2 separate regions of the Homo sapiens genome follow, and region 2 is linked to region 1. The links come from fine-mapping of genetic effects on gene expression. A gene starts in region 1. The other region holds a variant in brackets. All regions are shown on one strand. Distances are from middle to middle.

What was found.
Region 2: its variant is fine-mapped to the expression of TP53RK in adrenal gland (GTEx, PIP 0.98).

The regions. Positions count from the first base shown.
Region 1 is chr20:46,687,009-46,692,386 of GRCh38, reverse strand. TP53RK (TP53 regulating kinase) reads left to right here and starts at 2,943. Exons shown (of 2, transcript NM_033550.4): 1 at 2,943-3,255; 2 at 5,156-5,378. The coding sequence starts at 2,973. It overlaps TP53RK-DT (TP53RK divergent transcript), which reads right to left and starts at 3,088. Exons shown (of 1, transcript NR_186399.1): 1 at 2,098-3,088. RefSeq lists an enhancer at 2,495-3,084 and a silencer at 3,315-3,364.
Region 2 is chr20:46,544,843-46,550,220 of GRCh38, reverse strand. OCSTAMP (osteoclast stimulatory transmembrane protein) reads left to right here. Exons shown (of 3, transcript NM_080721.3): 2 at 3,892-4,894. Among named protein-coding and RNA genes, the nearest start is that of OCSTAMP, 3.1 kb to the left of the region's middle. RefSeq lists enhancers at 5,134-5,203, 4,410-5,261. The variant G/A (reference allele first, on the strand shown) is at 2,768.

The sequences.
Region 1 (5,378 bases):
AGCCTGCTCACTGCAGCACTGTTTATAAGAGACAACAAAACAAAAAAAAATGAAACAAAACTGGAGAAGTAACATTGTTAAAATGTCCTACAGATTCCATGTAATTCTTATCAATATTCCAATGACATTTTTGTAGAAATAAAAAATTCTAAAATTTATATAGAATCATAATAGACTCCATATAGTCAAAGCAATCTTGAGCAAAAAGAACAAAGCTGGAGGCATCATATTGCCTGACTTCAAAATATACTACAAAGTTATTGTAATCAAAACAGCATGTCACTGGCATAAAAACAGGCACATAGACCAATGGAACAGAATAGAGAGCCCAGAAATAAATCCACGCACTATAGTCAATTGAGTTTCATCAAACATGCCAAGAACGCGTAATGGAGAAAGGACAGTCTTTTCTATAAATGGTGTTGGGACAACTGGATATTCATGTGAAAGAATTTAGACTCTTATCTTACATCATATGCAAAAATCAACTCAAAATGGATTAGACTTAAATGTAAGAGCCAAAACTATAAAACTCTTATAAGAAAACAGGGACAAAATGTCATGGCATTGGCCTGAGCAACGATTTTTTGTGTAGGACTCTCAAAACACAGGCAGCAAAAGTGAAAATAGACAAATGGAATTGCATCAAACTAAAACGTTTCTGCACAGTCAAGAAAAAAGAAAAAAAAAGAGTGAAAAGACAAACTACAGAATGGGAGAAAATTTTTGCAAACCATACATCTGATGAGGGGTTAATATCCAAATATATAAGGAATACAATCCAATAGTAAGAAAGGACAAAACCTGAATTAAAAGTAGGCAAAAGATCCAAAGAAATCTTTCTCAAAAGAAGACATAAAAATGGACAACGGGTATATTAAAAAAAAATGCTCAACATCACTAATCATCAGCGAAATGCAAATTAAACCCACAATGAGATATCACCTCTGACCTGTTAGAATCGCTATTTTAAAACATAAGAAAGATAATAAGTGTTGGCAAGGATGTGGAGAAAAGGGAACCGTTGCACCCTGTTGATAGGAATGTAAATTAGTACAGACATTATGGACAACAGTATGGAGGTTCTTCAAAAAAAATAAAAATAGAACTACCTTATGATCCAGCAACCCTACTACTGGGTACATATCCAAAGGAAACAAAATCAGTATATTGAAGAGATGTCTGCAGTCCCATGTTAATTGCAGCATCATTCACAATTCTCAATCTGAGTGTCCATCACTAAATGAATGGATAAAAATATGGTACATTTATATACACAATGGGATACTATTCAGCCTTTAAAAAGAATGGAATGCTGTCATTTACAGCAACATGGATGGAACAGGAGGATATTGTGTTAAATGAAATAAGCTAGGCACAGAAAGACAAATATCCCATGATCTCACTTATATGAGGAAGGTAAGAAAAGTTGAACTCATGCAAGCAGAGTAGAATGGTGGTTACCAGGCGGTGGGGTAGGGGGAGGGAGATAGGGAGGATTTTGAGAAGTTGGTCAAAGGATACAAAATTTCAGTTAGATAGGAGGAAACATTCATGAAATCTATTGCACGACATGGTGACTATAGATAATAACAATGGGTTGTATTCTTGAAAAATGCTAAGATAATAGATTTTAAGTGTCCTCACCCCCGAAATGATCAGTATGTTAGGTAACGTTAACTAGCTGGATTTAGCCATTCCACAATGTATACATATTTCAAAACATGTTACTTACGATAAACACGTACAATTTTTACTTTTCCTTATGTACGTCTTCATCTGGCTGTTCATTTTTATCTTTTATACTATCTTTTATAATAAACTGGCAATAGTAAGTAAAGTGTTTTCCTGAGAAACAACAAACTGGAAACAACTGTTTAGCAACAAGAAACTGCCTGACCAGGTAGAAGGACGTGGTAGCTCTGTATGTATTGATATGGAATATAGTCTGAGATAAATTGTTTAGGAAAATGAAAAGCAAGTTGCCAAAGAACCCACAGTATGATGTCATTTATGTTGGAAAAAACGCCACAACGATGTGTGAGTGTGCACACTGAATGAAAGAAAATTCTGGAAAGAAACTAACGGCCAGCAGTGTCACAAGGGGGATAGGTAGTTTATTTATTTATGTGTGCGTGTGCAAAGTTCCGTATTGTAAGAATTTGCTACAGCCTGTGTTATTATAAGCTTTGTAATGAAACAGGTAGAAACTGAAAAAGTTTAATTATTCCCAATTCAGTTTAGGTTCTGTCTCCGGAAGACTTTCCCGGATTCCCCAGCCCCCACTCCCCACCCCATCTTACCACCCCCTCTGCCAGCTCTGAGTCTCAATTTTCTTTTCTGTAAGGATTTTCATCATTTAACCTTATTTCTTCTGAATGCACTAAATGGTAGTTATCCTAGCACTTAAGAGGATGTCGGAAACATGGTTCATTGTCTGACCCTTCCGACTCTGACTTGTATGAGCACATTTTGGGGGGAATGTAGGAGTCAGGGGAAGAGGAGTTCCAAAAAGAGACTACTAGAGGGTACAGCTGTCCCGGAAGAGACTTCTGAAGAGAGCAAAGCGCGTCCGACGTTTTTCTCGAGAGGCGCCGAAGTTTTCCGGAAAGAGACGACCAACTGAGAGGTGGGCCCCCAAAGCCGGCTGCGAGAGTCACCGAAGATTTCCGGAGAGCCAAGGAGTCGGGAAGAGCCACTTACTGAGCGTTGCCGAACGTGTACGGAGATAGCCGAAGAGGCGGAAGGCGGGGCCACAAGAGCCCTTCCTGCAGGGAACCTCAGGCTTCAGAGAGCCGAAAAGTTGGGAGGCGTAACCACTTACAGGCCGGAAGTGTCCGGGGTGGACGCATTCGGGTAGCCGAAGAAGTCCCAGGATTGCCGAAGAAGTCCCAGGATTTCCGAAGCGAGCCGAAGCATCGCGACAGTTTTCAGAGACAGCTGATCGGTTGGAGCTGTTGCGCCGAGCAGTCATGGCGGCGGCCAGAGCTACTACGCCGGCCGATGGCGAGGAGCCCGCCCCGGAGGCTGAGGCTCTGGCCGCAGCCCGGGAGCGGAGCAGCCGCTTCTTGAGCGGCCTGGAGCTGGTGAAGCAGGGTGCCGAGGCGCGCGTGTTCCGTGGCCGCTTCCAGGGCCGCGCGGCGGTGATCAAGCACCGCTTCCCCAAGGGCTACCGGCACCCGGCGCTGGAGGCGCGGCTTGGCAGACGGCGGACGGTGCAGGAGGCCCGGGCGCTCCTCCGCTGTCGCCGCGCTGGTAAGGTGGGCCGGGATCCCGGCGTGGGCGGCCCCGAGGCTCTGGGGCCTGGGCGGGTGAGGGACTCCCCTGCGCTCCGAAGCTGGATTTCCCTCAGTTTCTCCTTCTGTGCCTTCTGCGGTGTCCGGCCTTTCGGAAATGTTATTCTTTCATCCCTTTTTTCATTCGTTAAGTCTTAAGAAACCACGTGGCCATGCAGCGTCAAGCTTTTGTCCTGAGGCCGTTCTGCCTGGTTCAAATCTGGGATCTGTCATTATTGCTCAATGTTGAACATGTTTAACTTCCCTGAGCCTTGGTTTCCCCATTTGACTCGTTTCAATTTTCGATCATTATCTTTCCATTTATTAGTTTTAAGAAACATGTAATGACAAGTACTTGCCCCACTGGAGCCAGGCTCCCTGGGTTGAAATACTAACTCTGCTGCTTGTGTAGCCTTTCAACAAGTTATTTAGCCTCTCAGCCTCGGTTTTCTCACCTGTAAAATGGGAGACATAGTAGCAGTATCCATGTCATAGGGATGTTGTGACCATTAGAGGAGGTATGTGTGTCACGTATTATGTTCAAATGTGTGCCTGGCACATAGTGCCCAATAAATGTTGGATTTCATTAAATTGCCTATTTTTTCATTAAACATCATTGTGCGCCAGCACCATAAACTTTGTCCTCAGATGAGAAAGTGACACTCAGAGAGAAGTAACTTGCCCAAGGTTACACGGTTACTAAGTGGCCGGTCCAGGCCCTCAGCTCCTTATGCCTCTGACTCAGAAGCCCTGGCTTTTTACTTTTACGCTTCTTGCCTTTCTTTTATCAGTATTTTTTAGGTACCAGTGGGTACCAGGACATTGTTAAGTGCTGGGAGATCTGGGTGGGGGATATTCAGTAGCCAACAAGCGGACACATTGCTGCCCTTTCAGAGACTTAAGATTTCATGAAGTTATTTGTGTATTCATATTTCTGTTTTCAGCCTCATGATCTGTTTCGTTAAGCAGAGATTGTATTATAGCTGGCTTGTTTATTGCTGTATCCCCATTGATAACATCTCTCAGTTTCTAGAAAAGTATACTGAGCCTGGTTGACTTTCAGTAAAGATTCATTGAGTTTATTGGAGCTATTGTTCCTTGTATAGTAGCAGAAACTGAGGCTTAGAGAAGTTAATGTAATTTTAAGATTAGATTAGACAACTAATAAGAAAAGCAGCTGGGATTTGAACCCTGTCCTCTCTGACTACGAAGATGAACCTCGAAGCTAGCACACTGCTTGGCCTCCTGTTTGTGTCCTCATCAGTAGAAACTGCTCTGACTGGGCTGTGCCTTGCTCTTTGTTTTTGTTTTTTGAGACAGTGTCTCACTTTGTCACCCAGGCTGGAGTGGTGCAGTGGCACAATCTCAGCTCACTGCAACTTACGCTCCCTGAGTTCAAGCTATTCTCCTGCCTCAGCCTCCCGAGTAGCTGGGACTACAGGCGTGAGCCACCACACCTGGCTAATTTTTGTATTTTTAGTAGAGATGGGGGTCTCGAACTTCTGACCTCAAGTGATCCGCCTGCCTCCGCCTCCCAAAGTGCTGGGATTACAGGCATGAGCCACCACACCCGGCCTTTGTTTTGTTTGTTTTTTAGAGAGTGAGTGTGACAAATGAAGTCCAGTGAGAAAGGGTGGTTTGGAAGGGAGGAGGAAGCTATGGCCTCCTCAGTTTAGCTGTGGGGTGTTCCCAGGCATAGTCCTGCAGTGGGCATGAGCAGGGGAATATTCCAGATGAGTTCAGTTGTACCATTTCCTGTAGCATTCCTCAATAGTCCTGAAATAAGTAGATATAGATGGAAAAACTGGCTTAATCTTTGAAAATTAAGTTTACCCGTTAAAAAAAATCCAACCCAATAACCACTTATGTCTTGATTTCAGGAATATCTGCCCCAGTTGTCTTTTTTGTGGACTATGCTTCCAACTGCTTATATATGGAAGAAATTGAAGGCTCAGTGACTGTTCGAGATTATATTCAGTCCACTATGGAGACTGAAAAAACTCCCCAGGGTCTCTCCAACTTAGCCAAGACAATTGGGCAGGTTTTGGCTCGAATGCACGATGAAGACCTCATTCATGGTGATCTCACCACCTCCAACATGCT
Region 2 (5,378 bases), 140 kb after region 1:
CCGTGCAGGAATTGTCATCCAATATGACTTAGGACTGGCTTTCAATCCTTAAAATTGTTTTTATTATTAGCTATTATTCCAAAAGCTACTGTGTTCCAAATATTAATTATATAGTAGAAGGGGGTGTTTAGTCCCAAATTCAAATGCCTTCGGGAGCTGGGAAGGGGTTGCACCTGTGGAAGGCCACCTGGGTGTGCAGACGGACCCGTTCATTGATCAGCAGGATGCAGTCTGCAGGGCTGCTCCCCTGTCAAAGGTGGGTAGTGGATACTCAGCTCCAGCTACCTGTTGCAAAGGTGGGAGCTCTAACCCAGATCTTCTTATCTCTCAAGAAAAGCTGGAAACCCAGATTTTAATGTGAAACTTCCTTATTTCCAAATGGGGGCAGCTTACACACACACACACACACACAGAGTGGGCCACAATAAGGCACATTTGCATATGATTCAGCCTTTAGGGCTTCAAGGTTGTGACCTTCACTCCAGCCCCACAGGCCTCACTGCATCTCAGCTTCCCACTGTTCTGGTTCTCCCAACTCCCTATTTCCCGATGGTCAGAGCACAGGACCTTTGCACACGCTGTTCCTTCTGTCAGGGATGTCCAACTCCCTTCTTCACCCACAAACTGACACTTGTCCTTCCACCCCCAGCTGGAATGTCACCTCTTCCAGGGAGCCTTCCTGACTCCCAGGTAAAACTGGGTCACTCTCCATCTATCCCACCCCAGTCCAGGCCCAGGCATACTATGCTCAGAATTCTTTGTTAATGAACTTAAACTCTAATGGTCTATTTAAGTCTCCTCAATTAGACTGTGAACTCCTTTAGTGGGACCAGGACTTAATTCATCTTTGTGTCCACAGGGGTCAGCACAGAGCCTGGGCACAGAGGAGACTCGAGTGAAACATTTACATCGTTGACATAAGTATCATCAGAGTAACAAGTGGTGCAGTTTTATAGGATCCCTCTTCTGTGCCAGACCCTGTGTAAACTTCTTTACATGGATTATTTCATTTTATTGTCCCAGAAGCCCTGTGACAAAGGTTTCTGTATTAGTCAGGACTCATTGAGTTGCAAGTGACAGATTGATCTTACACTGCCTGTAGAAAAACAGACATCTCCTAGTGTGTGGTCCGGCATAGATTTCGGCTTCAGGCATTTCTGGATCCAGGTCCTCCAACAAGGCCACTGGGACTCTCTGTCTGTTTCCTAACACTGTTTTCCTTGTGTTGCCTTCATCCCAGGCCGACTCATACTACATGGTGGTCCCCAAGGCTTGAGGCATCTTCCTACCAGCTTAGCTCTCAAGGCAACAAAGGGCAGTTTTTTTGTCGTTGCAGCAAAATCCTGAGGAAAGCTCTATTGGTCCATCTCCGGTCAGGTGCAATCCCTGCACCAGTCACGGTGGCCAGGGGATCAGAGGTACTTGGATCAACTAGACCCAGTCACATGCTTATCCTTCAAGCTGTTGATGGTGGAGCAAGTCAGCAGCTTTGCCTGTAACCAACACAGTGACAGCCTCCCCACCACCCTCCCTGCCCTTTATAACCATATTCCCGTATAACCTTTCTGCCTGCTCTCACTTAAGATAATGTATGATCTCCAACCTCAAGTGGGCCTCAGTGTTGCCCAGCACATATGTTATTGCCCCAGTTCGTTTGTTCTCCCACTTTCCTGGGCAACCATTTTGTACTTTCTTCTTCCTCTTCAAGCATCCATCACCTCCGCCAGCATCTTACCTTCTCTGCTGACCTTGCTTCCTGCCAACCTGAGCAAACAGAAGCAATCGGTCATGCTACTCTTAATGAATAGTTTTGGAGCACTCACAACATGGCAGACACTATTGTAGGCACTTGGGACATATCAGTGACCAAAACGGACAAAGTCCCTGCTCCGGTGGAGTTGACTCTAGTGGTAGGTAATAGCTGATGTGATACTTACCATGTGCCAGAAACAAAGTGACCCCAGGAGGTGCATACTTTTATTGCACCATTTTACAGATGAGACAGCTGAGACACAGAAAGGTTGTGATATGTACCCAAGTTCACATAGCTGGCAAGTGGTGGAGCAGAAATTTGAGCCCAGGCAGTCCAGAGGTCATGCCCTTAACATTACTCTGCTCTGCGTATATCAGAGGATACTTTTCACAGGTGCATACACGCTGCCTGTTCATTCGCCATCATCTGTACCTATTTCCTCTGCTTTCCCACCTGCTATTAAGGATGAACGACCCCTGCTCTATTCTAAGACCAGCCCCACCTTGCATGTTCTCAGTCTCACTCTCTGCCTCCACCCCTACAGGTGTCACTCCAGGGAGTCTCCCCTTTGTCAATGTCTCCCCTCTCGATGAGATCTCCCACCTGCAAACATGCTATAGATTTCCTCCCTTTACATGAATTCTCTTGGTCCAATTTCCCATAGCTACCAGCCACTGCTTCATCTCCCTGCTGTTTTAGTGTAGAAATTACCGGAAAGAGTTGTCTGTATCTGTGTTTCCTATTCTTCTCCTTCCCGTCTCTCCTGGACCCAGTCTAGTTGGATTTTGGCCCCAAAAGCCACCGAACTCTCCCTGCCAAGGTCAACAGTGACCTCTAAGCGGCTAATAGGCATTGCTCAGTCCTCATCATTCTTGACCTGTTGGCTGCATTTGACGTACTTGATCACTCCTTTCTCCTTGAAACATTTTGTTTATTTGGCTTCCTAAGCACCACATTGGTTTCTCAGTCTCTTTTGCTGGTTCCTCCTTATCTAAGAGCCCCTAACCTTGGAGC[G/A]CCTTGAGGCATGTCCTTGGATGTCTTTCCTCCCCAGTGACACACTCTCTTGAGGAATCTCATGGTGCACATGGCTTTAGGTAGGGATATAAAGTTGGGAGACATCTAATAATCAGACTCCCAATGTTATAACTCCAGCCTGACCTCCCCTCTGAATTCCTGACTTCTATTTCCAACCACGTCGTCAAAAGCTCCACGGAATGGCTCAACTGAATCTCAAATTTAAGAGTTCTGAACTGAATTCCTCCTCTCTCCCCCTCCACTCAAACCTGTTTTGACCACAGAGTTCTCATCTCAGGAAATGACACCTTGGTGCTTCCAGTTGCTCAGACACAAAAGCACCTCGTCATCCTTGACTCCCCTCTTTCTCTCACACCCCACAACCAATCAGCCTCTGCAAATCTTGTTGACTCTGCCAACAAAATGTGTTCAGAATCCAAGCTTTCCTTACTACTCCTCTGCCATCGCTCTTAACATAGTGCAAGCCCCACGAAGGTAGGGACTTCTGTTTTTTTCATTCCTGTTTCTCCAATGGTTAACACAAAGTCGTTGCTTGATAAACACTTGTTGAATGAATAAATATAAGGATGATAGAATATAAAAGTCCCTCACAGGCCAACTAGTTCACCCTCCTCACCCCTAAATTATAGAGGAGACCCTGAAGTTCAGAAAGAATAGAAGGTCCAGAATCATACAGCAAGCCACCAAGACTATTAATTCAAGTGAAATCGTTTCTCTTCTTCTCTCTCCTCTTACTCATTCTCTCTCTTTCACCTGTGCTTCTCGCTCCATGACTCTTTCATTCTCTTGGGCCAGTTGCCTTCACAAAACTGTAATAATGGACTCAAACAGGGCAGACTTTCATCCTCACATCCTCAGGTACTGCATGGGAATTGGGCTCTTCCCTGACAGTTCCAGCGAGAGTAATCCTGGGGAAGGCTCTGATTGGTTCAGCTTGTGTCACGTGGGTATACAGTGACTTACTCTGATTGGTCCACCTGGGTAACTACAAGGGTGGAGTCTGTTAGCAGAGCCTGGTGATGGGTATGTGGGGCAGGGGCAGTGGACAGACACCCACCCACCCACCTCCTGATAGAGATGCCCTTCAATTTCCTTGTGTGCAGGTGGAGGTCCTGGCACTTGGGGTTCTGGAAGGCCCTTGCCCCACTGCAGGCTGCCTGGGACGCCTTCTCCCAGCCTGTTCCAGCCAGCTGTGGCCAGCTGCTGACCCAGCTCCTCCTGTGTGCCTCCCTGGCTGCTGCTGCTGCAGGTCTGGTTTATCACTGGCTGGCATCCTTGCTGCTTTATCCTCCTGGACCTTCAGCCATGGTTGCCACTGTCTGTGGCCTCCTGGTCTTCCTGAGCCTGGGCCTGGTACCCCCAGTCCGCTGCCTGTTTGCACTCAGCGTGCCCACCCTGGGTATGGAGCAGGGCCGCCGGCTGCTCCTGTCCTACAGCACTGCCACCCTGGCCATTGCTGTGGTGCCCAACGTCCTGGCCAACGTGGGTGCGGCCGGGCAGGTGCTGAGGTGTGTCACCGAGGGCTCCCTGGAGAGTCTCCTCAATACCACTCACCAGCTGCATGCAGCATCCAGGGCTCTGGGCCCCACAGGCCAGGCAGGCAGCCGGGGCCTGACATTTGAGGCCCAGGACAATGGCTCTGCCTTCTACCTTCACATGCTCAGGGTCACTCAGCAGGTCCTGGAGGATTTCTCTGGCCTGGAGTCCCTGGCCCGGGCAGCAGCGCTAGGGACCCAGCGAGTGGTCACAGGGCTGTTTATGTTGGGCCTCCTGGTGGAGTCGGCATGGTACCTCCATTGCTACCTGACAGACCTGCGGTTTGACAATATCTACGCCACTCAACAGCTGACCCAGCGGTTGGCACAGGCCCAGGCTACACACCTCCTGGCCCCTCCACCCACCTGGCTGCTCCAGGCGGCTCAGCTGAGGCTGTCACAGGAGGAGCTGTTGAGTTGTCTTCTAAGGCTGGGGCTGCTTGCCCTGCTCCTCGTGGCCACGGCTGTGGCGGTGGCCACAGACCATGTAGCCTTCCTCCTGGCACAGGCTACTGTGGACTGGGCTCAGAAGTTGCCAACTGTGCCCATCACGCTCACGGTCAAGTATGATGTAAGTGTGATGATGGGAAAAGGGAAGGGAGTCATTGTTTTGAGGGCAGGGGGAGAATCTGTTAAACCCTTGACTTGTGATGAAATTTGACTTGCCTCCAAGAAACAGCCCTTGAATCATCCATGGGGCCCCATACCATGGGCAGAGGGACTCATCGGATACCCACAACAGCTCTAGGAAGTGGTTTCTATTTTCACTTCCTATTGCAGTTGAGGATGCTGAAACCCAGACACCTTAAAATAACTTGCATCCAAGGTCACCCTTCACAAGTGGCAGCTTGTCCTAGCCTCATTTTCCACATTTGTACAAATTGAATCGATCCTCCTAATCCTAAAAGGCTATTGTGTCTTACAATGTGGTATTGTCTTAAAGTACCTAGTAAGCTCCATGGCACATAAGAGATTATTTAATAAAGAGTGGCTATTATTAATAGCTTACATCTGTCTATGTCAGACTGGAGGAGGACTTTGGAATGGCCTTGATC